Regions from separate parts of the Homo sapiens genome. Here regions 2, 3, 4, 5 and 6 are each linked to region 1. The links come from fine-mapping of genetic effects on gene expression. A gene starts in region 1. Each other region holds a variant in brackets. All regions are shown on one strand. Distances are between the middles of the regions. Region 1 holds the start of SLC25A43 (solute carrier family 25 member 43). Region 2 has its middle 7.3 kb from the start of SLC25A5-AS1. Region 3 has its middle 15 kb from the start of SLC25A5-AS1. Region 4 holds the start of LINC03098 (long intergenic non-protein coding RNA 3098). Region 5 overlaps SLC25A43 (solute carrier family 25 member 43). Region 6 overlaps SLC25A43 (solute carrier family 25 member 43).

Evidence for each region. PIP is the estimated chance that this variant, and not a neighbour inherited with it, causes the effect.
Region 2: its variant is the best candidate, but not a certain one, in a credible set for the expression of SLC25A43 in blood mononuclear cells (TOPMed, PIP 0.56).
Region 3: its variant is the best candidate, but not a certain one, in a credible set for the expression of SLC25A43 in esophagus muscle (GTEx, PIP 0.73).
Region 4: its variant is the best candidate, but not a certain one, in a credible set for the expression of SLC25A43 in fibroblasts (GTEx, PIP 0.61).
Region 5: its variant is the best candidate, but not a certain one, in a credible set for the expression of SLC25A43 in tibial artery (GTEx, PIP 0.51).
Region 6: its variant is the best candidate, but not a certain one, in a credible set for the expression of SLC25A43 in whole blood (TOPMed, PIP 0.72).

What each region holds. Positions count from the first base shown.
Region 1 is chrX:119,397,224-119,401,312 of GRCh38, forward strand. SLC25A43 (solute carrier family 25 member 43) reads left to right here and starts at 2,113. Exons shown (of 5, transcript NM_145305.3): 1 at 2,113-2,455. The coding sequence starts at 2,181. RefSeq lists a silencer at 1,977-2,636.
Region 2 is chrX:119,474,367-119,478,455 of GRCh38, forward strand. No RefSeq gene overlaps it. Among named protein-coding and RNA genes, the nearest start is that of SLC25A5-AS1, 7.3 kb to the left of the region's middle. The variant C/G (reference allele first, on the strand shown) is at 1,540.
Region 3 is chrX:119,481,720-119,485,808 of GRCh38, forward strand. No RefSeq gene overlaps it. Among named protein-coding and RNA genes, the nearest start is that of SLC25A5-AS1, 15 kb to the left of the region's middle. RefSeq lists enhancers at 809-908, 959-1,008. The variant A/G (reference allele first, on the strand shown) is at 1,632.
Region 4 is chrX:119,291,243-119,295,331 of GRCh38, forward strand. It overlaps LINC03098 (long intergenic non-protein coding RNA 3098), which reads left to right and starts at 287. Exons shown (of 4, transcript NR_110396.1): 1 at 287-379. The variant C/A (reference allele first, on the strand shown) is at 2,119.
Region 5 is chrX:119,451,150-119,455,238 of GRCh38, forward strand. It overlaps SLC25A43 (solute carrier family 25 member 43), which reads left to right. Exons shown (of 5, transcript NM_145305.3): 4 at 860-994; 5 at 1,716-3,329. The coding sequence ends at 1,916. Among named protein-coding and RNA genes, the nearest start is that of SLC25A5, 15 kb to the right of the region's middle. The variant A/G (reference allele first, on the strand shown) is at 2,209.
Region 6 is chrX:119,445,143-119,449,231 of GRCh38, forward strand. The region is part of intron 3 of SLC25A43 (solute carrier family 25 member 43); the gene reads left to right. Among named protein-coding and RNA genes, the nearest start is that of SLC25A5, 21 kb to the right of the region's middle. The variant C/G (reference allele first, on the strand shown) is at 1,963.

The sequences.
Region 1 (4,089 bases):
CGCCACCTCGCCCGGCTAATTTTTTGTATTTTCAGTAGAGACGGGGTTTCACCGTGTTAGCCAGGATGGTCTCGATCTCCTGACCTCGTGATCCGCCCGCCTCAGCCTCCCAAAGTGCTGGGATTATAGGCGTGAGCCACCGCGCCCGGCCATACATTTTACTTTCAAGGTTAAAATAGGCCAGGCGCGGTGGCTCATGCCTGTAATTTCGGCACTTTGGGAGGCCGAGGCAGGTGGATCATCTGAGGTCAGGAATTCGAGACCAGCCTGGCCAACATGGCGAACCCCATCTCTACTGAAAATACAAAAAAATTAGTTGGGTATGGTGGCACATGCCTGTAGTCCCAGCTACTTAGGAGGCTGAGGCAGGAGAATCGCTTGAACCTAGGAGGCAGAGGTTACAGTGAGCCAAGACCATGCCACTGCACTTCACCCTGGGCGACAGAGCGAGACTCTGTCTCAAAAAAAAAAAAAACATAACTTGGCTGACCCAATCTCCATACAATGGGGTTATCACATGAAATGTTCCAGACCCACGAACTTCCTGAAAGAGCTTTAGAATCTTGTCCCGTTATCCAACAAAGGGCTTTAGGAAGTACCAGTACCCGAAGGTTTCCTTATTGTAATCCCCAAATTCCAATTCAAGCCCTTTTAAAGTCGGGGTCCTCCGGTCTTCAGAGTCATACATCTTTCTCAAGCTTCCCCCAGCCATCAAATTAGCTTACAACAAGACAGAAGAATTCACAAAACATGAAAATAAGCATTCCCCAATTGTTGAGAGCAGAGTATGGCTTCTGCAACTAGAACAAGTTCTCACAGTCAAAACCTTGTAATGTCATACTCAAGTGAGATTGACAGTGAAAAATAAAAAAGGAGAAACCCTGCAATGCCTTTTAGAAAACGTTCCTATAGCATTGTGTGTTAGTAAATGTAAATAACTATACAAGCCTAAAAACAACTATGTACCCGGAACATCTTGCTCACACCAACAGACTGCTGACAGTTCCTTTCCTTGTAATTATTAGTGACATGGCTTTTTTAGAAAAAAAAGAGACAGAAAGAAATTCTGAAATTCTGAAATTTTTGAACTGATTAAAGAATCCTCGGATTCTGGCCAAGCCTCTCTTAGCCATTCTTTGCCTCTATTGTTCTCTTAGCTTACAGAACCACTGAAAATGTCCCTACTGGAGTTAACTCTGCAGTCCTAGTAGACATATAGTGTAGCCGTTAGTGGAAACTGACATAAACCGCCCTAGATTTCAAACCGGTCTCTGCTTTGTAGGTAGCTGTGTGAGCCTGAGCAAGTCCTCTCTGTGTCTTGGTTTCCTCTCCTGTAAATGAATACCTAATCAGAACTAACACATATAAACTGCTTACCCATACCAGTCATTGTTCATTAATCCTTACAACAACCCCTAGGAGGAAAAAATTATAATCTCTGTTTTATAAAGCAACTGACACACAGAGAGGTTGAGTGACTTCCCCAAGGTCCCACAGCTGGTAAGCTGCAGAGCCAAGAATCTTACACAGGTTCAAGAGTCCAGATTCAAGTCCCCACACCCACACAGCCTCTGTCAATGAGGACATACGTACTTAGGGCCGTTTTGAGGATTACATGAGAACGTCTGTAAAGCCCAGTACTTGACAAGTGCCTGAGAGATAGCAACTGTGGTTGTTAGAATTTTTTACCTTCTGCACTGGGAAACCATCAAGGCTTTTTGGTTAGGCAGGAAAAAAAAATGGGTTGGAGGCAAGAGGAGGAGGAGGGAAGCGCCAGGGGAGGAAGACAGAGAAGTGGCACGTGAAAGGGAGAAAAGGGGCAAACCAGAGGAGAGGCAGGGAGGGGCGGCGGGGGCGCACTGAACATTTAGGAAGCAAGATGTCTAGCAGGCTGGGCCTTGAGAGAACAGTAACTGTTTCGCAACTGAAAGTCGCTACTCGAGCCTTGCCAACTGGGGAGACTATGCCCATGATATCCGCGGCCTCGGACCCCGGACCCTCCAGGCCCTCGCGCCCCACCCCCGACCAGCCTCGGGCCAGGCTAGGGCGTAGACGGGGCTTCCCGTCCCTCACGCGGGCCCGCCCCATGCCGGGCGGGGCCTGGGGCCCGCCACCTCCGCCCGTGGCCGGAGAGCCCCAGGCCCGAGCCACGCGGTCTTCCGGGCCCGGGTCGGGGCTCGATGGCTACGTGGAGGCGGGACGGCCGACTGACAGGCGGCCAAAGGCTGCTGTGCGCTGGGCTGGCGGGGACGCTCAGCCTCAGCCTCACCGCGCCCCTGGAGCTCGCCACCGTGCTGGCCCAGGTTGGCGTCGTGCGAGGCCACGCCCGGGGACCGTGGGCCACAGGGCACCGGGTGTGGCGGGCAGAGGGGCTCCGGGCCCTGTGGAAGGGGAACGCGGTGGCGTGCCTGCGCCTCTTCCCCTGCAGCGCCGTGCAGCTCGCCGCCTACCGCAAGTAAGAGCCGGGCGGGGCCGGGGAACCGGGAGACCGGACGGGGGTGGGGTGGGGGAGCCGCGGCCCGACGCCGCCCTGCTGCCTGGACTCGGGGCCCTGGAGTAGGGACGGCCCCCTTGTCGATCACCTGGGGACCCCTCGGGGCGGTGGGCCACCTCTATGGCCCCCAGAGTGCAGCCCCAATGCTTTTCACGTTCTCTTGGGGTTACCGCCCTGCAAGATGCAGTTTTGTGGTCCGCAGCCCTGGTCCGAGAGGCTTTCCGGATTGGACCGGGCGAGGAGGTGGAATGCAGCAAAGGATTTGGAGGAAAGGAATGAAAAGCTCTCCAGAGAGATGAGTCCTAACCATTTCCACCGTCCTCCAATTTGGAAACTTTTGCTTAGGCTGGCTTAGGAAGAGAGAGACCCTTTTAAAGGTGTTTTTGTCTGTGTGACCCAAGCCCCGAGAAGAAAGTGCTTGGTGTGGGGAAAGGACCCGATCCATCGATACGAAAAGGCCGCAGATTTTTGCCCACACATCTCCCCAACTTAAATGAAGCTTGACTTCAGGCTCCGACAGAGGCTGCAGCTTCCCCTCCCCAAGCTGAGAACGGCCCCCTCAGCCTACCGCTTCACCCCACTGGCCTCATTTATTTGGGCCTTTTCCACCTTCTCCCACATCAACAGCTGCTCCTTAGGAAAAGATCTAAAGGTGTAAATGCAGCCTTAAAGCTTCCACCGAGCTCAGAGGTACCTGCATTTGAACTGGAAACCAAGCCTGAAAGAATGAATTGGTAGTGATGGCATTTCAGGAAGCAGAGATGTTTCTGTATTGGGGGGACGGTCCCTGTGTTCCTCATTCAGTGGGCACAGTGGCATCTTTGATATCGCCTTGGCTCTGAATTAGACAAACAGCCCACATTTGGGAGAGTCGGTCTTGACCGCATAGTTTAGTCTTGGCGGCTAATAGTCAAAGGATTTTGCCTTGACACTGTCACTCACCTGGGAGGCCAGAGGTGGAAGGCTCACCTGGCAGCCGACAAGCCGAACGGAATCATCCTTATTACCTAGGCCTCTAGGCCAGTACTCATTTTGCCTCTGCCTGGAAATAGAGTTCCCTTCTCTTCCTCTGCAGAGGGACTCATGGGTGGGACCATGACATTTAGTTAAGGCCCTTTTTCCTCCCCACCTCTGCTTGCCCTCATCAACATCTGGCCTGCAGTCTGTAAACAGTTCTCCTCTGAGTCTTAATGACTCAGTTTCTCCCCCACTTCACCCTCTTCTCTACAAAGTAGTGTGGAAATCTTCCTTTGGATGGGATAAAATATGTCCAGAGGGGTGGGGGGCAGAACTTCAAAGGCTGGTTTAAGTATTGTGGCTCTTCTGCTAAGCACCTAGTATATGCACATTAGATTTTTTAAGCTCCTGCCTCCTGCCCTGTAAGGTCCATAGGACAGGAAGCATTGTGCCTGTTTTACAGATGCAGAATTGGGCTCAGAGTGATGACACCTCTTGTCAGTGACCGAGCTGAGCTCCACTACCTGGCCTTCTGACTCCAAATCTCATAGTCTTTCTGTTACATCATGCTGCCTCCCTGCATCCATTTGACACTAATTTAGTCAGGCTACATTAAGTCCCCACTGTGTGCACGATGC
Region 2 (4,089 bases), 77 kb after region 1:
AGCCCCCTTTATGGTTATTACAATAGATGTGGACTCACTGAGCTGGCAGCTATTAAAATAAACCTAGGACCAGGCATTAATGATCAGAAAGCAAGAAGTGGTGCCTCCTGCAATTGGGTAGCTGACATAGATGAGGTGGGGGTTTTTTTTGTTGTTGTTCTTTCTATTCTTGTTCAATGATTTTTGAAATTTAATTTAAAGACAAAGTGGTTTTAATCTCTCCAAGCTGTGCAGGATAGTGCTATAGAATTCATTATGTCCATTACGCTCATGCGAACGTTGATGGTACACAATCTTAGCAACACCCTAATTTATGCCGTTGTTTTGTTACTATTCAATACATAACAGGATCCGTGAAGCCTGATTCCAGGTGAGAGAGCCAGAACACAGGTCAGCTTGTGCACAGCCGTGCTTCCTATTCCAAGGGCCCTCTGCACTCAGTGACTGGAAGCAGCGCGCTACGGGCGCTCCGGACCGCCGGAGAAAGAAACGAGGGGTGTCTTCCCAGAGCGGCAGTTTTCGTGAATGGTAAGTCATTTAAACCGTCATTTTTTTGTATCAAAAGAGATGCAGAGATGCTAGAGAGTCTATTAATTTGAAGGCATTTTAAAAACATAAACTGCAAAGAGAGTTTTGGTATACAAGGGCCATTTCTGGCACTGCCCCCAGACTCCAATTCAGTCTCCTCTATCATTACAGATACTTTGGGAGAAAAAATTTTTAAAGTACTGCTGTACTGTATCATAGATTTTCAAGCATCCGTGTTACTGGGGTAAATTCTATTTCTCCTTTGAAGTTTGTGAACGTAGTATTTCTAATTTGCTTTTGAGGTTTTTAATAGTTAACATCTGTACATGGTAATAAAAGCCAAATAGTAAAGAAAATATGTAAAACGAAAAGTAAACATCTTCCTGTCCTGCGTTTCTCATCACTAGCCCCCTCCTCAAAAGTCACCGTTATTAGCAATTTCTTGGCTATCCATTCCCCCAAAATTAATGCATATTGCTGTAACGGCTGCTGATTTGTTTTATCGGAATCGTATTCTGACCACCTGGATTCAAAATGGCATGATTCTTTTAGAACCGAGTCATACTGTGGAGTACCAGGACTAACAGAAGCTGTCGGAGGCAGGAGGGCAGGGAAAGGGTAGCTTCCGGACTCTGAGCAAGGATTTCTAAGTGTGGCCATTTATTAAAATCCTAACCTGGGATTTTTTTTTTTTTTTTTTTTTTTTTTTTTTTTTGCGGGGGTTGGGGGGTTAGTTTTGGTTGCTGAGTGACCTGGAGACAAGTCACTTCTAACATCAGGGTCTTAGTTTCTTATCCTTGAATGGAGAAATTTGGGGAAGAGACAAACTCTAAAGTCCCTTCTAGTTTAGACGTCCTCCAGCTCCATCATTTTTGCAGAAAGCAGAACCAGTGAAAGGACCAGGATTAGGTGATTTAATCCTTTCAGAGAACATTTTAAAATATCTAACACAATCGTAAATGAATAGTCTCTGACTCAGAGCAGTCATTTACAGACTGTGTGGGTGGTTTG[C/G]CATTGGCAAGTAAAATTACGAATGTAAAGATTTACATTAATTTCAGGACCAAGAAGCTGAGCAACAAATTACAGCTCGGTGTTTGGGTCAGAGGTGCTCTGATTTACCTCAAAATAATTAACATCTGTCTTCTCAAAGCCTCATCTTATTATGTGTAATGTGCACTTCCGTATGCAGGTTGAGATTTATTTGAACAACAAATATTAGGCGCTGCAATTTCGGACACAAAAATGCCTTGTGTTCCACTCCAAATGTTTGGAGGAGCTTTCCTATCATTTCAGCCATTATTTGCTTTATGTGCAGGTGAACAAGGTCAGATGCATGGTGCTCTTCTTAGCCAAAGGCTTAAGAGAGCCTTTGGTATCCCGGCAACAAATATAAACAGTATTCAAGCGACAGATTGGGCAGTTGCTTTCACTAGACCCTCATCAGAGACAAAACTGAGTTAAATTAAAGGAGTCTATTAATCCTTGGCTTTTCCGTGACTATCAGGGAAGGGGACAGAGAAACGAGGGGGTTATTTTTATGGCGAGCATCCATCCTGGGATTTCATTTCCTTGGGCAACTTTCGTAACATGGGGAGGCAATTTAGCACTGTTGAGATTTTAGAGAACATGCCGAATCTGATCACATGACATGTTACACTGTCTCTAATGTTTTCAGTCCCAGAATAGAGATGGTTATGGTTGCAAGGACATAACCAGAATAAAGTATCAGTTAAATAGCTGTTGACTGGTAACTTCCGAGGGCCTCGTGTTTGGGAATGAAAAGGAAAACTCTTCTGTCTAAATGAACTCCAATACCCAGTTTGGCAAGAAGCAGAGATATCTTATGGGCAGAGGCAAAGGCAGATGTACTGTGGAGCTAGGGGTGCTTCCCCTTTGGAGCCACCCCTTGCATGGGCCCCTCCCAAGCCCTAACCATATATTCATTTGGTCATATGGTTTGGCAACATTTTCAAAAGACATATTTTGTGTTTTTAAAAAGAGGGAGCCAAATCATATAAGCTGACACTTCCACAAAACTCAGATCCATTCCTGCCCGTGGAACTGGAGTGGATGAAGGAATTTGGAGGCAGCCCTGTACATCAGGGAGAGGTCTGGGGCTTCCTCACCACCTGACCTTCCTCGGAGCACACCGCTCAGGACTCACTCATGAGAAGCTTTGAGGCTAGAGGTCTCATTTTCAAATACCAAACTTTCTTACTTGACAACAATTCAACTTTTACTTAACTGTTTTGTGCCTTAGTTTCCCCATGTGGAATATGGGGATAACTTTAGTACCTACCTCATAGGAATAGTGTGAAGATTAAAGGAGTTAATATATGTAAAGTGCTTAGAACAATGCTGGGCACCTGCTTTACACAATTTTGCTCTTATTATGACTGTTATTGCTTTGTTTTTGTTTTTGAGATAGAGTCTTGCTCTGTCACCCAGGCTGGAGTTCAGTGGTGCGAACTTGGCTCACTGCAACCTCCACCCCCCAGGTTCAAGCGATTCTCCTGCCTTAGTCTCCCGAGTAGCTGGGACAAGAGGTGCAAGCCACCACACCTGGCTAATTTTTGTATTTTTAGTAGAGATGGGGTTTCACCATGTTGGCCAGGTTGGTCTCGAACTCCTGGCCTCAAGTGATCCAACCGCCTCAGCCTCCCAAAGTGCTGGGATTACAGGCAGGAGCCACTGCATCTGGCCCGACTGTTATTGTTTTATTGAAATGCTTTAAATTATTTTCACTTCATTCATGGGAGAATGGTTTAATGGATTTATCCTTTTCCTGCAGATTTTCTAAAACAGTCTCAAGAAAATGCTATATATACTATAGAAAGTGGATCACACACACACACACAGAGAGAGAGAGAGAAGGTTGTAAAGAAAGAAAAGGACATTTTTGGAATGGACTGAATGAATAGAAACATGTGCTTATGGTGATAATCCTGAGCTCTAACTCAGAGCACTTATTTTACAACACTGATTATGAAAGAGACCAAAGGTCAAAGATAAATCCGTCCTGCCTCACAACCAGACTGCACTGCTCACCTGACCCAGGGGCCACTGTGTGGTCACCAGGATTCTTCTCACAGCTTCCTTTGCTCTCGTAGTATTTCAAGGAACCCATGAGGTCCCAGCCTGATTACCCAACCCTATGACTTCACTCCCTAGGGAAAGAAGCTGCAGGGAGGAGAAAATTTACTGAGACCTTTAGAAGCAAAGGATCTCCTTTCACTTTCACAACTAAGTCCAGGGTTCAGGAGTCCATTTATTACAAAAATTGAGCTTCATAATGGCTTTATCCCAGAAGTGAAGATCAGGGGGTAAGGACGCTTGGGCTTCTGGGTAAAAGCGTGCTGTTTGCCAATTAGGGTAGAAAGCTAGGAGTTTGACCACTGAAATTGTAATCCCACTTCGGCTCCATGTTTCTTTGTCTTGGGTCATATCACATCCCGTCACTAGTTAGTGGCTCAGTTTGTCTACCAGGAAACCTGGAAATCAACTTTCCTTTTTAAGCTACAATATAATTCCTCAAATCTACTGTGGGCTGTGGTTCTTTTT
Region 3 (4,089 bases), 84 kb after region 1:
CTGCTCCCAGACCTGGGCCTAATGTTCCCAGCTTCTAAGACTATTTCAGCCACTAAAAGCCCATGAGAACCCTTGAGTGAATGTGGCCCTTTTTGACGTGCTCAGGAAGCAGGCAGAGTTTGTTCTCTCTCACTTGTGAGTGGGAGGCCTCCAGGAGTGCAGCAGCGGACTTGCTCAGTAGTAACATCCATTGTCATTTCTTGAGCTTTGACTATGGGCCAGGCACTCTTTTAATTGTGGATACTCATTTAATCCTTTCAGTGGCCTTATGATGCAGGTGCTAAGATTACCATTTCCCAGATGAGGAAACCGAGGCACCTGGCAAACCACGTGTAACACCTGCAGATGAAAACCCTGAAAACAAAGGGAACCCCCCCCCAACTTAGAGAGAGTCAGAAAGTAGCACTTAATGCTGCGGTGCCTGGAAAATAACCACGGAGGCCCAGAGGAAGGGAGGGGTTCAAGCTCTTTAGGGACCATCGGCCTGCTTGGGGACCTACCCATGTGAGGAGCCCCTGGAGAGGCGCTTGGTGCAGTGGTTAAGAGCATGGTTCCGCCCCTTTCCAGCTGTGAAATGGTGAGCAAGATTCTAAGTCTCACTGCCTCACCTTGCTCAGCCGGAAAATGGGGTCAAGAACACTACTTGCCTGGCACTGTAGTGAGGATGAAATAAATTAATATTTGCGAGGCGCTTGGCACAAAGCCTAGCATATAATATGCGCTTAAGTGTTTGTTAAATAACTACGGGCTCTCTCAGAGTCGGCCCCTTCCCTTTAGGCGCCGGTTTTGTAATCTGGGAAACTTTGTAAAGAGCGCTCTCAGCGCGGTGGCTAAAACAGTCCGCTAGGACTATGCCGAGTAGCAGCAGAAGGAAATGGCCCGGCCCGCCAGGCGGGGAGCTGCAGACAACTAGGAGAGAGGAGGGCAGGGCACGCCCTGAGGGAAAAAACGCGGCTTTTGCAGGCCTAATGGCGGTTGAAAGTCGCCGAAGTGCAAGGCTGGATTGAGACAGACAGGCTGAAAAAGTCGCAGCGCAGCCGCAGCGGCAGCAGCCGATGGCCGACTCCTTCCTTTTCCAGTCCACGTGCCCAGGCGGGTCTCCGGCCGCCTCTCGCACCTGCCTGCAGAGGGCGCGCTGCTTCTCGCCTCGGCCTGGGCACCGCGGCCGACTCCGCTGGAAGAGCTGTGTCCTCCACGCAGACCGCTTTCCACCAAGCTCAGCTAAACCCACCGCCCCCAAGAAGTCTACCCTGGCCGCTCCAGCCAAGCTCTTCCTCCCCTGAACCCCCAAAGCATCATCAGCACTGCATAATTTAGAACTTGGATATGTGCTGGCTGGTCACTGTGTCCTACGTATGGGACAAATCTTGGCTCAACAATATCATACTTTGCATTTCTCCCCCGAGTCACACACGGCCATTGGCATACCGGCAGCCACATAGCGTGTGCCCAGCAAACACCTGGTGTACCTCTACTGGGTCTCACTGTATTGGCTCCCAAAGGAGACTCTCAGGATCCCTGATGTCGCCAAGCCCTGGGGTGGCAGAAGGGACACCTGGGAGGATGCCTGCATGGCCTCAGTTGCCACTTCGAGCCTTCACTGACCAAATGAGGTCGGTGTAGCCCACCTC[A/G]GAAGGCAATGCCTTCGTGCAAAGGAAACCCTCTGCCAGGGAATCCATTGATATGGAAATATTTGCTGAGCCCCAGCTTTGGTGCAGAGCCCTGTGCTGGGCACCAGGGACACAGTGAGGAATAGAAAGGATTCTTGTGGTGATGGGAGGCAGTGTAGAAAAATTAGAATAGCAAGAGATTTAAAGTCAGGCTGGGCGCGGTGGCTCACGCCGGTAATCCCAACACTTTGGGAGGCCAAGGTGGGTGGATTATTTGAGGTCTGGAGTTCGAGACCAGCTTGACCAACAAGGTAAAATCCTGTCTCTACTAAAAAAAAAAAAAAAAAAAAAAAAATTAGCAGGGCGTGGTGGCGCATGCCTGTAGTCTCAGCTACTTGGGAGGCTGAGGCAGGAGAATTGCTTGAACCCCGGGAAGTGGAGGTTGCAGTAAGCCAAGATTGCACCACTGCACTCCAGCCTGGGCGACTGAGTGAGACTCCGTCTCAAAAAAGAAAAAAAACAGAGAGAGATTTAGAATCAGAAAATCCCCCACAGGCACTAGCTGTGTGGCCTTGGGCACACCATGTCACTTCTTTGAGTCTCAGTTTCCTCTTCTGTATCTCTGAGGGAGTCTGGAGTAGGGTAGCGGTGGTCAGATCTACAATGATAGCCAGATTTATAATGTTTTAATGTTCATGAGAACATACTTATCCATGAAGTAAGTAATTTAAATTACATTTTTAACAGTACACATTTTTTTTTTTTTTTTTTAGATAGAATCTCGCTCTGTTGCCCAGGCTGGAGTGCAGTGGTGCCATCTCGGCTCACTGCAACCTCCACCTTCTGGGTTCAAGCGATTCTCCAGCCTCAGCCTCATGAGTAGCTGGGATTACAGGCGCTCACCACCACACCCAGCTAATTTTGTATTTTTAGTAGAGATGGGGTTTCACCAGGTTGGCCAGGATGGCCTCGAACTCCTGACCTCAAGTGATCCACCTACCTCAGCCTCCCAAAGTGCTGGGATTACAGGCATGAGCCACTGCACCCAGCTTTATTCCTTCGATTTAGCTGTAACTTTGTAACCAACCTCTCCCTATCCTCCCCTCCCCTCTACCTTTCCCAGCCTCTAATAATCATAATTCTACTCTCTACTTCTATGAGCTCAGGAGTTTTTTTTAGCTCCCACATATAAGTGAGAACATGCAGAACATGCCTGACTTATTTCACTTAACATAATGTCCTCCAGGCTCATCCATCTTGTCATGAATGACAAGATCTCATTCTTTTTTATGGCTGAATAATATTCTGCTGTGTCTGTGTGACATTTTCTCTATCCATTCATCCATTGATGGACACTAAGATAGATTCCATATCTTAGCTATTGTAAATAGTGCTGCAATAAACATGGGGAGGCAGGTATCTCAATACACTGATTTCCTTTTTGGGGGTATATATCCAGTAGTGAGTGGAATTGCTGGATCATATGGTAGTCCTATTTGTAGTTTGTTTTTTTTTTTTTAAGAAACCTTCATACCATTTTCCATAATGGCTGTACTGATTTACATTCTCATCAACAATGTACAAGTCCCCTTTTCTCTGCATCCTCCCTAGCATTTTTTTTTTTTTGTCTTTTTGACAATAGCTATTCTAGCTGGGGTATACATTATATTTTTTTAAATTGAAGCATAAAATGGAAGTGATGGTGTTTTGTGAAAACCAAATGATAAAATAGTTATGAAAGCTGTTGTAACTGAAAGAGGCACCACAAAGTTTCATTATGTTTACCACTGCTAAAATATATAGGAGGCACCCAGTTAATGTTTCTTGAGGAGAATGGAAATGTTTCCTGAGTGATAGGATCCATATATAAACATGAGAGTTAAGAGTGCCAGAACATCTGACATGTGCCAAATGCGCTGTCCAGATGATAAGTATTTAATGGATTCTCTTAGAGAGCAATCACTGGGCGGGGTGGTCAGGGCTGCATGGTGGAGGTGAGATTTCAGTTGGGCCCTGATGATGGCGTTGATCTTTGGTGAAGAGGCATGAGGAAGACAATCCAGACAGAGGGAAGGGCATGCACTAAGGGCACAAAAGCAGGAAGGTATGAATGATCGAGAATGCCAAGTGCAGGAGGGCAGGGCCCTCTGCCTCTGCTCTAGCCTCAGTGCCTAGCACAGTCCCTGACACATAGTAGGCTCTCAATACATGTTTGTGGAAGGAAGGGAGGGAGGGAGGAAAGAAGGAAGGAAGAGAGGAAGGAAGGAAGGAAGGAAGGAAAGGAAAGGAAGGGCGGAAGGGTGGGCCAGGTGTGGTGGCTTACCACTATAATCCCAGCATTTTGGGAGGCCAAGATGCGAGGATCACTTGAGCATAGGAATTTGAGACCAGCCTGGCCGACACGGTGAAACCCTGTCTCTACTAAAAATGCAAAAATTAGCTGGGTATGGTGGTGGGTGCCTGTAATCTCAGCTACTCG
Region 4 (4,089 bases), 110 kb before region 1:
ACAAGCAAGAAATTCAGACGGCCTCTGGAAATGGCAAGAAAACAAATTCTCCCTTAGGGCTTCTAGAAGGAACACAGTCCTGCTGTGATATGGTTTGGCTCTGTGTCTCTACTCAAATCTCATGTTGAATTGTAATCCCCAGTGTTGGGGGAGGGACCTGGTGGGAGGTGATTGGATCATGGGGGTGGATTCCCCCCCTGCTGTTCTCATGGTAGTGAGTTCTCACGAGATCTGGTTGTTTAAAACTGTGTAGCACCTCCCCCTTCACTCTCTCTCCTGTCACCATGTGAAGGTGTGCTTGCTTCCCCTTCATATTTTGCCATGATTATAAGTTTCCTGAGGCCTACCCAGCCATGGCTCCTGTATAGCCTGCAGAACTGTGAGTCAATTAAATCTCTTTTCTTTATAAAGTCTCAGGTAGTTTTTTTATAGCAATGTGAGAATGGACTAATACATACTGACAGCTTGATTGTAAAACTTTTGGCCTCTAGAACTGTCAGATAGTAAGTCTGCATTATTTTAAGCCACTAAATTTGTGTTAGTTTATTAGAGTGGCAATAGGAAATTAATACAGACATGATGGAAACTTAGAATGCCAGGTTTGAAAAGGCTTTCTGGCAAAGCCTCCTGTCTGGCCTGTTGATTCCTGGAAGATGGGAGTGAAACAGATCCGAATTCATAGCATATTTTCTTTATTGTTCTTGTGGCTCTTGGCATATGTTTCTCTGTATTAATATTAGTTATCTTCCCATTAGATGTACGCTACTTGTGGGCAGATTCAGTTAGCATATAGCACAGGACCTTGCCCATCTAACAGGCAAGCAGCAATGATGCTTTGCAATTGCATAATTTTAGCTGGAGTTTCTAAAAGGCTTTCACATATGACCCTACAGGCATCAACATAAACTGAAAATAGAAGGGCAGGAATTATAGAAGGTGTCACAGATTGGAGAGAGGAAGTTCCCAGAAGAGACTGTAAAAGAGACACTTGGAGTGAGAAAGAGAGGAAAGGGGACAAATGCCAAGGAAAGGAAATGAGTTTTCCTTACCCAGGAAAAATTGGCGAAGGCTCACAACCTTTGACTCTTATCTTGAAAGCAAGCCAGGAGGCCTATGCAGGAGTGAGAGAAGCCACAAATCACTACATGGCCCGTGGAAGTAGAGCAGGTTGGATCCCAGCTGAGGGTCCCATCCAGCATCCTGACCCCCACTCCTATCCTAGCCAGTCTGACTGGCAGGAATGCAAAAGGGATGTTTCCTGCCTGCCTCAAGAGTTTGGTAACTCTTCCATTAGGTAGCTGGTTAGATCTGGAGGAGAAAGCTACATAACCCACTTGGGGTTTCAGAGGGAGCCAAAGTCAACTTCTTCAGCACAATGCCAGGCAAGCTAGACAGATGGCAGCAGAGGAGCTATCAGCTCCTGAATTTCAAAGACCAGCCAAGGGGAGAGACAGAGCTTGGCCACCATGGAAATAGAGAAGCCCAAGAAGATAGGGGACCCATAATTTTCAGGCCTAGTAATTCTCAATGTCCATGTATAGTCCACTCATGTGACTTAATGTCTTATGGGCAGTATTTTTCAGTCAATTATGCCTTGTAAAACAACTCTGGGAAGAGGAACTATTCTGTGAAATTGCTGGGTCATATAGTAGTTGCATGTTTAGTTTTTTAAGAAACCATAGTCAGGTGCAGTGGCTCATGCCTGTAATCCCAGCACTTCGGGAGACCGAGGCAGGTGGATCACTTGAGGACAGGAGTTCGAAACCAGCCTGGGCAATATGGCAAAACCCCATCTCTACAAAAAATACAAAACATTAGCCAGCATGGTGGCCCATGCCTGTGGTCCCAGCTACTTGGGAGGCTGAGGTGGGAGAATCGATTGAGCCCAGGAGTTTGAGGCCGCAGTGAGCCATGATCACACCACTTCACTCCAGCCTGGGTGACAGAGGGAGACCCCAAAAGAAAGAAAGAAGGAAAGAAAGAAAGAAAGAAAGAAAGAAAGAAAGAAAGAAAGAAAGAAAGAAAGAGGAAAGAAAGAAACTGCCATACTCCCTTCCAGTATGATTGTATCATTTTACATTCCAAACAACAATGTACATAAGTGATTCCATCTCTCCA[C/A]ACCCTTACTAGCATTTGATGTTGTCTCTAATATTATTTATTCTGACAAATACATAGTGATACTTCAATGTGGTTTTAATTTGCATTTCCCTTACAATGAACATCATTAACTATGCTTATTTGCTATCTATATCTCCTCATTCATGGAATGACTCTTCATGACTTTTGTTCATTTTCTGATTGAATTGATTGGTTTTATTTTTTAACTGTTAAGTTTTTGGGAGTTCTTTAAATATTCTGTATACAGGTCCTTTGTTGGATATGTGGTTTGCAAATATTTTCTCCAAGCTTATAGCTTGCCTTTTCATCCTCTTTCGCAAAGCAGAAGTTTTTCATTTTGATTAAGTCCAATTTATAAATTTTTCCTTTTATGGCTAATGCCTTTGGTGTCAGGTATGAGAACTATTCACATAGCCCTAGATCCCAAAGATTTTCTCCTGTGTTTTTTTTTCTAAAACCTTTATAGTTTTGTGTTTTACACTTAAGTTCATAATCCATTTTGAGTTGATTTTTGTGTAAGATGTGATATATAGGTCAAGGTGTTTGTTTGTTTGTTTGTTTGTTTTTTGCCTGTGGATATCCAATTGTTTTAGCATCATTTGTTGAAAAAGCTATATTTCCTCCATTGACATTCTTTTGTGCATTTGTCAAAAATCAGTTTGCCATATTTGTTTTTAAGAGTCTGTCCTGGATTCTCTCTTCTGTCCCTCCAATCTGTGTTTATCCCTCCACCAATACCACACTATCTTGACTACCGTAGCATCATATTAAGTCATAACACAAGTGATTCCATATACTTTAATCTTATTAACTTATTTTCACTACGTTTTAACTATTCTAGGGCCTGTTGCTTTACATATAAATTTTAAAATAAACATGTCTTTGTCTACAAAAGTTCTTGCTATGATTCTAATAATTATTGCATTAAACTTGTATATCAATTTGGGGAGAATTGATGTCTTTACTGTGTTCAGTTTTCCATCCATGGTATGTCTCTCCATTTATATAGATCTTTGATTTCCTTCATCAGAATTTTGTAGTCTTCAGCATACAAGTGCTTTACATGTTTTGTTAGATTTGCACTGAAGTATTAAATTTTTTAGCTATTGTAAAAGTATTCTATTTTTCATTTCAGTGTCCACACATTCATTGTTGATCTAGTATCTGACAGCCTTGCTGAATGCATTTATTAGTTCTAGGTTTTTAAATGATTCCTGAGATTTACTGTGTAGACAGTTATGTCATTTGCAAATAGAGGCAGTTTTATTTATGCCTTTCTATTTTGTATGCCTTTTATTTCCTTTTCTCATCTTATTGCACTGACTAAAACTTCCAGCACTTTGTTGAATAAGAGTGGCAGCTGGGCGTGGTGGCTCATGCCTGTAATCCCAACACTTTGGGAGGCCAAGGCATGAGGATCACTTGAGGCCAGAAGTTGGAGACCATCCTGGGCAACATAGTGAGACCTTGTCTTAAAAATAAAATAAAATAAAAGAGTGGCAAGAGAGGGCATTCTTGTCGTCAGCTATAGGTTTTTGTACTTGCCTTTTATCAAGTTGAGGAATTTCCCTCTATTCCTAGAAAACTGAGTATTTTTTTATTCTGAATGGGTGTTGTATTTTCTCAAGTCACTTTTCTGCATCAATTTATGTGATCATGTAAGTTTTCTTCAGTGGCCTTTTAGTATCACAGATTACATTGATTGATTTTTGAATATTGAACTAGCTTTGCATCTCTGAAATAAGCACTATTTTGTCATTATGCATAATACCTTTTATACATTCTGAATTCTATTTGCTAATATCTTTTTTTAAAAAATTTATTTTTAATTTTGTGGTTATATAATAGGTTTATATATTTATGGGGTACATGAGATATTGTGATACAGGCATGCCATGTGTAATAATCACACCAGGGTAAAAGGAGCATCCATCCCCTCAAGCATTTATCCTTTCTTTGTCTTACAAACAA
Region 5 (4,089 bases), 54 kb after region 1:
GTGAGACTCTGTCGCAAAAAAAATAATAATATTAAAGGAGAAAACGTTCCTTTCAGAGATGGAGCATTTTGGTAATAATAGGGTTCCGTCAGGATGGCTCTGAAGGTGGTGATGATGTCCACGGGGTGGCCAAAATGGTATAAAGGTGAGGATCACTGAAGCCGAAGGCCAGAAACTGGTCATGGGCTGGGTCGTCTTTATAGATGCCAAAGTTACCTAAGATGACGGCGAGGCTAGGAGAGGGTGAGCCACCAGGTATCACAGTCTTCAATGAACGTGGAAGAGTGGCCAGATTAGTAGATAATAGCAGGCCAAGGAGTATGGTTCAGTGACATCAGCCCCAGCTAAGTGCTTCTGTCGTGAGAGTGAAGGAGGAAGGGTTTGGGAACAGCAACAGAGAGCGAGAAGAATGCCACCATCACAATGCTCCCTACCCTGTCACATCTGTGAGGTGGAGAAATGAACAGCCTCCGCTTGGGAGCTTCACAGGGGAAGGACCAGTAAAGACAAGGAAACAGAATACTTTAAAAAGGCTAAGGGCATGGGATTATGTTTATCATGTCCAGAAGGCACAGGTTGGGAGGGAATGTAAGTATGAAATTGAATCTGTCCCAAATGTCTGCTTCCTTCCAGGCAAAATAAACGACAAATATATGGACAGGGTATCATGATTGTATTGCACGTTAATATCTGTTCTAAGCCCACAGAACAAGAAGAACCCCACAGCAGCCATTCTTTGCCATCATCTTGGCCAGGAACCCAGCATCCAGAATGTAGACTTGAGACCCTGGCTCCTTCCACTAGGACATTTATTTCCTAATGTTTCAATCACCTCATCCCAGCTTCTGTTTCCTGTCAGGCTCAGAGCCCCTACCTCCCACACAGTGGAGGAGTAGATGTCCATTTCTCAGGAGCAGTGGACTGCTTCCGGCAGATAGTGAAGGCCCAGGGGGTCCTGGGGCTCTGGAATGGATTGACAGCCAATTTACTGAAGGTGAGAAGAGCCACCAGCCTCCGCTGCTCCCCTGCCTCTTCCAATTCTACCCTCTTCCTTTGTCACCCCCAACCCCTACTACAGTTTGCTTGGAAAACCCCCTCTAGCACTAATGGGTAGCACAAGGCCCATGAATGCACACTGTCTGTCAGCCCCGTAGAGAGGGGAACCTGTGCAGTGGTGGAGTATCTTATACCCCATTCCAGAGGAGCTGAGCATTTAGTGCAGAGATACTTAATGTGGAGGTTCATGGGCCCCTAATGGGAACCTAACCCCTCATCCTAAAATTCTATGCAAAAATGTATGTGTATATGCATATGTGCATCATATTCCCAAAGAACTCCATGACAAAAAAAAAAAAAAACAAAAACAAAAAACATTAAGCACTCTGGACTAACCTTGCACTAGCTGGCATGTAAATGATTCCAGTCAAGGCCAGCATATAGTGACAGGTAGTATCAGATAGTCTGCGTGCATATGACCCAGATCTAGTGCCTCCCAGGCAGGTCATGCCCTTCAATCACTGTCATTCCTCTCCCAACCCACACTGAGCCAGCTTTCCTTTTGCCATCTTTCCTGATTCCAAAAAGAGTTACCATTTGTATTGCCACCGCCATTATCTCACTTTACAAGATAATTTACCCTGATCCAAGTTGACTGCAGACACATTGATGTTTTCTTTTTAAGAACTTAACTTGATTTTCATTTTTGGTTTTAACAGATAGTTCCATATTTTGGAATTATGTTTAGCACCTTTGAGTTCTGCAAGAGAATCTGTCTTTATCAAAATGGTTACATTCTGTCTCCACTGAGCTATAAATTGACCCCAGGAGTCGATCAGAGTTTGCAGCCCCAGGAATTACGAGAATTAAAGAAGTTCTTCAAAACGAGAAAACCGAAGCCTAAAAAACCAACTCTATAAAATGGAATGGAACTAGAAGTGCACTGACTGACAGCATGTTGCAATCACAGATAAATGTAGCCTCATAACTGTGCACCTGAGGAGGGATGAGAAGCTACTGCTATCTGCTGCTCTGGGAAATGAGATGGTTTGGCCATGCACCACCTCAGATCTCCAAACTGATGTCCCTGTGAACACCTGCACTATGAGAAGGTTTCCCAACAAGAGTGTATCATGATGGCATTCCACGAGATTTTATAACCAGAGTCTAGCAGTGATAAAATGTACAATTTACGCTCTGAATAGAAACATG[A/G]CACCAAAGAAAGGGCATTGCCATGACATCTCAAAGCAACAGGTAATTGAAGTGGCTGAGTGGATACCACGTTGTGAGGTCAGCCACTGGGTCACTTGTAGTCAATGCAAAGCTTGCACAAACCAACGTCAGCCTAGTTTCACTCAGTTTGACCTGAGACTTTCCAATACAATCTGTTGTTTTGTTTTGTTTTTAGAGACAGGGTCTTGCTCTGTCACCCAGACTGGAGTACAATGACACAATCATAGCTCACTGCAGCCTTTAACTACTGGGCTCAAGACATCCTCCTGCTTCAGCCTCCAGAGAGTTGGGACCATAGGTGCACACCACCACACCTAGCTAATTTTTTGGGGAGGTCTTGCTATGTTGCCCAGGCTGGTCTTGAACTCCTGGGCTCATGCAATCCTCCTGCCTTGGCCTCCCAAAGCGCTAGGATTAGAGGTGTGAGCCGCTGCACCCTGCCCCAGTACAATCTTTTTTGAACTCAAATTTTTGCTGACATCTGAGTGCACACACCACAGTGTAAATTATGCCTTATCAGAATCTAAATGAAAATAGCGAACATTTAAAAGCTATCACCATTGTAGTAGAATCATCCTTCTTTTTTGAAATTTGAAGCATCCCAGGCTTAAAATCTTGTGTTTCAGAAAGACAGTTTATACCATGACTGCTTAATTATCCCCCCAAAGACCTTCTGATTGAAGTCATGTACAGTTCAGTGGCCTAAATTCTCTGCCTTTTTAACTTGCTTTGCAAGCCTACTCTGAAAATAAGTTATTTAGTCAAGTTATTCTCAAAGATGTCCCAGTTGCCTAGAAAGGATCAAATGGAACATTTGACACACATACTCAAAAAAATGTAACTGACTATAAACACTTTAACCTAATCATCTGTATCAAACTTTCTAAAAATCAAATCTCAGGATTGTTCCACTTTAGAGATTCTATGTAAAGTTTATATAACTATACTTGTCAAATAGCACCTATCTATGCATTTAAAAATGCATTAATATCTAACATAAAATTGTTAATTTATACACACACATACACTCATACATAGAGAGAGATTTTCGGTATGTTGCAAGTATTTTTTCCGATTAAATTTATTTTCCAAAGAAAAAATGATGTGTTGGTCATTTATTGCTAGTCTGAGTTATAAAACTATGGTTAAATACATATTGGCCAAATCTGTAAACTCTCAAAGCCTTATCCTATTTAAGTATACCAAAATAATTCACTTTTCCAACTGCTGCGGCATTCTGTTTTATGGAGAATGGCAGTTAACACACACACACATGGAAATCTCATCTGTAGCTCAATCTGTTAGAGTTTGGAGGGTGGCAGATTCTTTACCCAAAGTGAATAGTTCATGTTTATTACTCTTTATTTTCCTTGAAACAGACAACTTTTCAAACAGTTCTGAAAGCTGCAAAAATATTTTTTACTTTTTTAACTATAAAATCCTAACCTCACATTATTTCATGATAATATCTTGTGTATTCTTCCACAAGTAATTTTTTTTTTAATTTGAAAAAAAAAATTGTCACCCAGGCTGGAGTCCAATGGCGTGATCTCAGCTCACTGGAACCTCCTCCCGGGTTCGAGCAGTTCTCCAGCTTCAGCCTCCCGAGTAGCTGGGATTACAGGCGCCTGCCACCATGCCTGGCTAATTTTTGTATTTGTAGTAGAGACAGGGTTTCACCATGTTGGCCAGGCTGGTCTCGAACTCCTGACCTTAGGTGATCTGCCCACCTCTGCCTCCCAAAGTGCTGGGATTACAGGTGTGAGCCACCACACCCTGCCCTTCCACAAGTATTATTAAATAGATAGCTAAACTCTTGCAGTTGTCATGCACAGAAATGTTTTCTGAGCTGCAGTTTTG
Region 6 (4,089 bases), 48 kb after region 1:
CCCACAGGCAGAAGATTCGCACTCTACCTAGGCTTCCACAGATCACTCAACCATGCATGAAAGTAAGGCCTGAAAAGTGTCTCTACTAGGTTGCCCTTCATTAATCTAGTTCCAGTCATGTATAATAAAATGGAGTGTCTTTCCAAAATTTCATAATTTAGATTTCACTCATTTAGGCCGACTTCCCCCCTATACATACCCACTAGTTGGAATTAGTTGCCTTTTACTATATGCTGTATTGAATGTCCTTATAGTTGGGGGTCATGAGAAAAGCTAAAGTCTAACTTGGACAAGATGACGACTGGCATTGCCAGGGTTGTGCAGCAACAGTAGTGGGGTGGGGTGTCCTGCAAGGACATGAGTTAGGTGGCTGTTAGGGGCAGCATAAGTTGTAGTGTAAAGCCTTGGAGCCTAGATGCCAAGGTCGCAGAGTCACCAGGAGGCAGGATCCTGGAGTACAGATTGCAGTGGCCCAGTAGGCACAGCATCTGGCCTCTAGGTCTGCCTCTGCTATGCACCAGCTGGGGGCTTTGGTTAAGTTGCTCTGCTTCTCCAGGTCATAGGTTTTTGTTTGTGAAACGAATAATTGGAAGGGAAGATCTTAGGGTCCATTTCAGATTGGGGTCTCTGGTTTAGGGATCTGCGTTATCAGAGTCTAAAGTAATCAAGTCCTTGGAGATCTAGTAATCAGAAGGAGAGCAAGAAAGAGCCAGCTTTCATTGTCAGGGGCAACAAAGAGGTGGCTCATGCCCATAATCCCAGCACTTTGGGAGGCCGAGGCAGGAGGATCACCTGAGGTCAAGAGTTTGAGGCCAGCCTGGCCAACATGGTGAAACCCCACCTCTACTAAAAGTACAAAAATTAGCTGGGTGTGGTGGCATGCACCTGCAATCCCAGCTACTCGGGAGGCTGAGGCAGGAGAATTGCTTGAATCTGGGAGGCAGAGGTTGCAGTGAGCCGAGATCAACCACTGCTCTCTAGCCTGAGTGACAGAGTGGGACTCCATCTCAAAAAAAAAAAAAAAAAAAAAAAAAAAGAAAGTCCAGAAAGCCTGGTTTGAATCAGTAAAATCGAGTTTTCACACTGCTTCACTGATTGTAATTCATTCTTCTACAGATTTTTAAGGAGGGTGGAAGAGAGAAAAGCTAAGTAAAATGTGGTCCTAGCCATCACAGGTCTCATAGTATCCTGAGGGAAAGAGACAGGAAACAACTAACTGGAATATAAAACAGAATAAAATGTGTTCATTACCTGCTGTATGACCTTGGTCAAATCACTTAACCTGTCCCTGAGCCTCAGTTTCCTCAACTTTAACAGACACATAAGCAGTCAATAAATGTCAGCAGCTATGCATCAGTAGTGGCAATAGTAATATGGACTACATGTGTAATATTTTGTACTATGCCATTACATCTTAGTAAAATAGAACCATCTACAATGTCTTGTGAAGAGAGAAATGAAATGAATTTTGATATTTGTTTTCTGCAAAGATTCTACATTACATTGTATAAGTCTTGACCTACCGTTTTTATAACTCATGCATAAAATTATGTGAAAATGCTTTAAAAATTCCAGCCCACTCTTATACTGGGCATTTTATGTACTCATTCAGCAAGCCATTCATTGAGCACCAGTCATGTGTCAGCTGCTGCTTAAGGCACTAGAGATACAGAAATTAAAAAGACCCAGTCCTCAGAGTTCACAGAACACTAGGAAAAACAGACATGTAAATTGGACATGATTACAGTACAATTGTGAAAGAGGCCTCTTTGAAAGAGTTGTCTATATTCACCATCTCCAATCTTTCTCTTCCCATTCTCTTTTTTTTTGAGACAGAGTCTCACTCTGTTGCCCAGGCTGGAGTGCAGTGGCGTGATCTCAGCTCACTGCAACCTCCACCTCCCGGGTTCAAGTGATTCTCATGACTCAGCTTCCTGAGTAGCTGGGATTACAGGCACCCAC[C/G]ACCATGCCCAGCTCATTTTTGTATTTTTAGCAGAGACAGGGTTTTGCCATGTTGGCCAGGCTGGTCTCTAACTCCTGACCTCAGGTGATCCACTTGCCTTGGCCTCCCAAAGTGCTAGAATTACAGGCGTGAGCCACCATGCCCAGCCCGATTCTCTCTTGAGTCCATTCCAGTCAGACTTTTGCTCCACCATCCAATAAACTTCTCTTTTATTTTTTGAGACATGGACTCACTCTATCGCCCAGGCTGGAGTACAGTGGCACAATCATGGTTCACTGCAGCCTCAACCTCATGGGCTCAAGCAACCCTCCCACCTCAGCCCCCCCAAGTAACTGGGACTACAGGTGTGCACCACCACACCCAGCTAATTTTTATATTTTTTGCAGAGATAGGGGTCCCACTGTGTTGCCCAGGCTGGTCTTGAACTCCTGGGCTCAAGCAATCCTCCCCCTATGGCCTCCCAAAGTGCTGGGATTGCACATGTGAGCCACTGCACCCAGCCAAAACTTCTCTTTTTATGATAACCAGTGACCTCCATGTGTTTAGATCCAATGGTCACTTCTCAGTCTTCATCTTACTGGGCCCTCAGCAGCTCACCACTCCTCCTTGACATACCACCTTCACTTGGCTTCCTGGACACCACACTTTCCTTTTCCTTCTTCACCAACTGCTCCTTCTCAGTCTTCTTTGTGGGGTCTAATGTGGAAGTATCCCCAGGCTCAAGCCCTAAGTGATCTCATCTGGTCTCCTGGCTTTAAATACCACCCATGTACTGATCACTCCCTAATTATGTCTCCGGCCCTGACCTCTCCCCTGAACTCCAGACTCATGTAGCCAACTCTCCATCTCCATTTGAATGGCTAACAAGCATTGCGCAGTTGAACTCCTGATGTTTTCACCCACCCTCAAAAAACAAAAACAAAAAGCCAACCTGCTTCTCCCATAGCGTCCTCCATCTCAGTTCATGGCACTTCTGTCTATCCCGTCACTTAGGCCAGAAACTTTAGAGCCATCCTTGACTCTCCTCTCACACCCTCATCCAGTCCATCAGCCAATCCTGTTGACTCTACCTTCAGAATATATCGAGTCTGATCACTGCTCACCACTCCACCACTAGCATCCCAGTCCAAGCTACCGTCATCTCTTGCCTAAATTACTCTAGTAATCTCCTAACCAGTCTCCATCCTACTTTTCCCTCCATTCTTGAGTCTTTTTCAACACAGCAGCCAGTGATCATGTGAAAATATAAATTAGGTCATGCCATTCTTCTATTCATAACCCCCCCCAGTGACCAGTCTTCTCAGTAAAAGCCAAAATTCTTACTGTGTGCCCTACCAGCCTTATACAACCTAGCCACCATTTACTTTTGTGAAGTCATATCCCATTACTCTCTATTTTGTTCATTCCATTACCACCACATTGGCCTCCTCATTGCCTCTGTAACACCCCGGACATGCTCCTGTCCCAGGGCCTTTGAAGATATCTGTACAACTTGCTTCCTCACTTCCTTCAGATCTCCAAAAAGCCATCTTCTTGGTGAGGTCTTCTCTGATTACCCTAATAAAAACTTCAGCATCCTCCAGACACTCCTTATGTTCCCCCTGCTTTTATTTTATCCAGAGCACTCACCTCCTCTTAGTATTTGGTGTAATTTACTTATTTATTTTCTTTCTTTGTCTTGTCTTCCCCTGCAATTAGACTTTCAGCTTTATAGGAACAGGGACTTTTGTCTGTTTGGTTCACTAATGTATCCTGAGTGTCGGGCATATAGTAAGTATCAATAAATATGCAAATAAATGAATAGTCTTTAGAGGAGATAATGGGAGTATAAAAAAGAGCTAAGGAGTGCAGTCAGTATGATTGGGGTGAGTGATGCTTTTCATGTTGGAAAAGTTGTCATGAAGGGCCTTACATGTCATTCTAAGGAGCTTAGATTTTATCCTATAGGCGGTAAAATGTCAGTAAAGTAGTCAGTGGTCTGAATTGGAATTTTAGAAATGCGTTCTGGCTGTAGTATAAAGAATGAGGCCGGGCACGGTGGCTCATACCTGTAATCTCAGCACTTTGGGAGGCCGAGGCAGGTGGATCACCTGAGGTCAGGAGTTCAAGACCAGCCTGCCCAACAC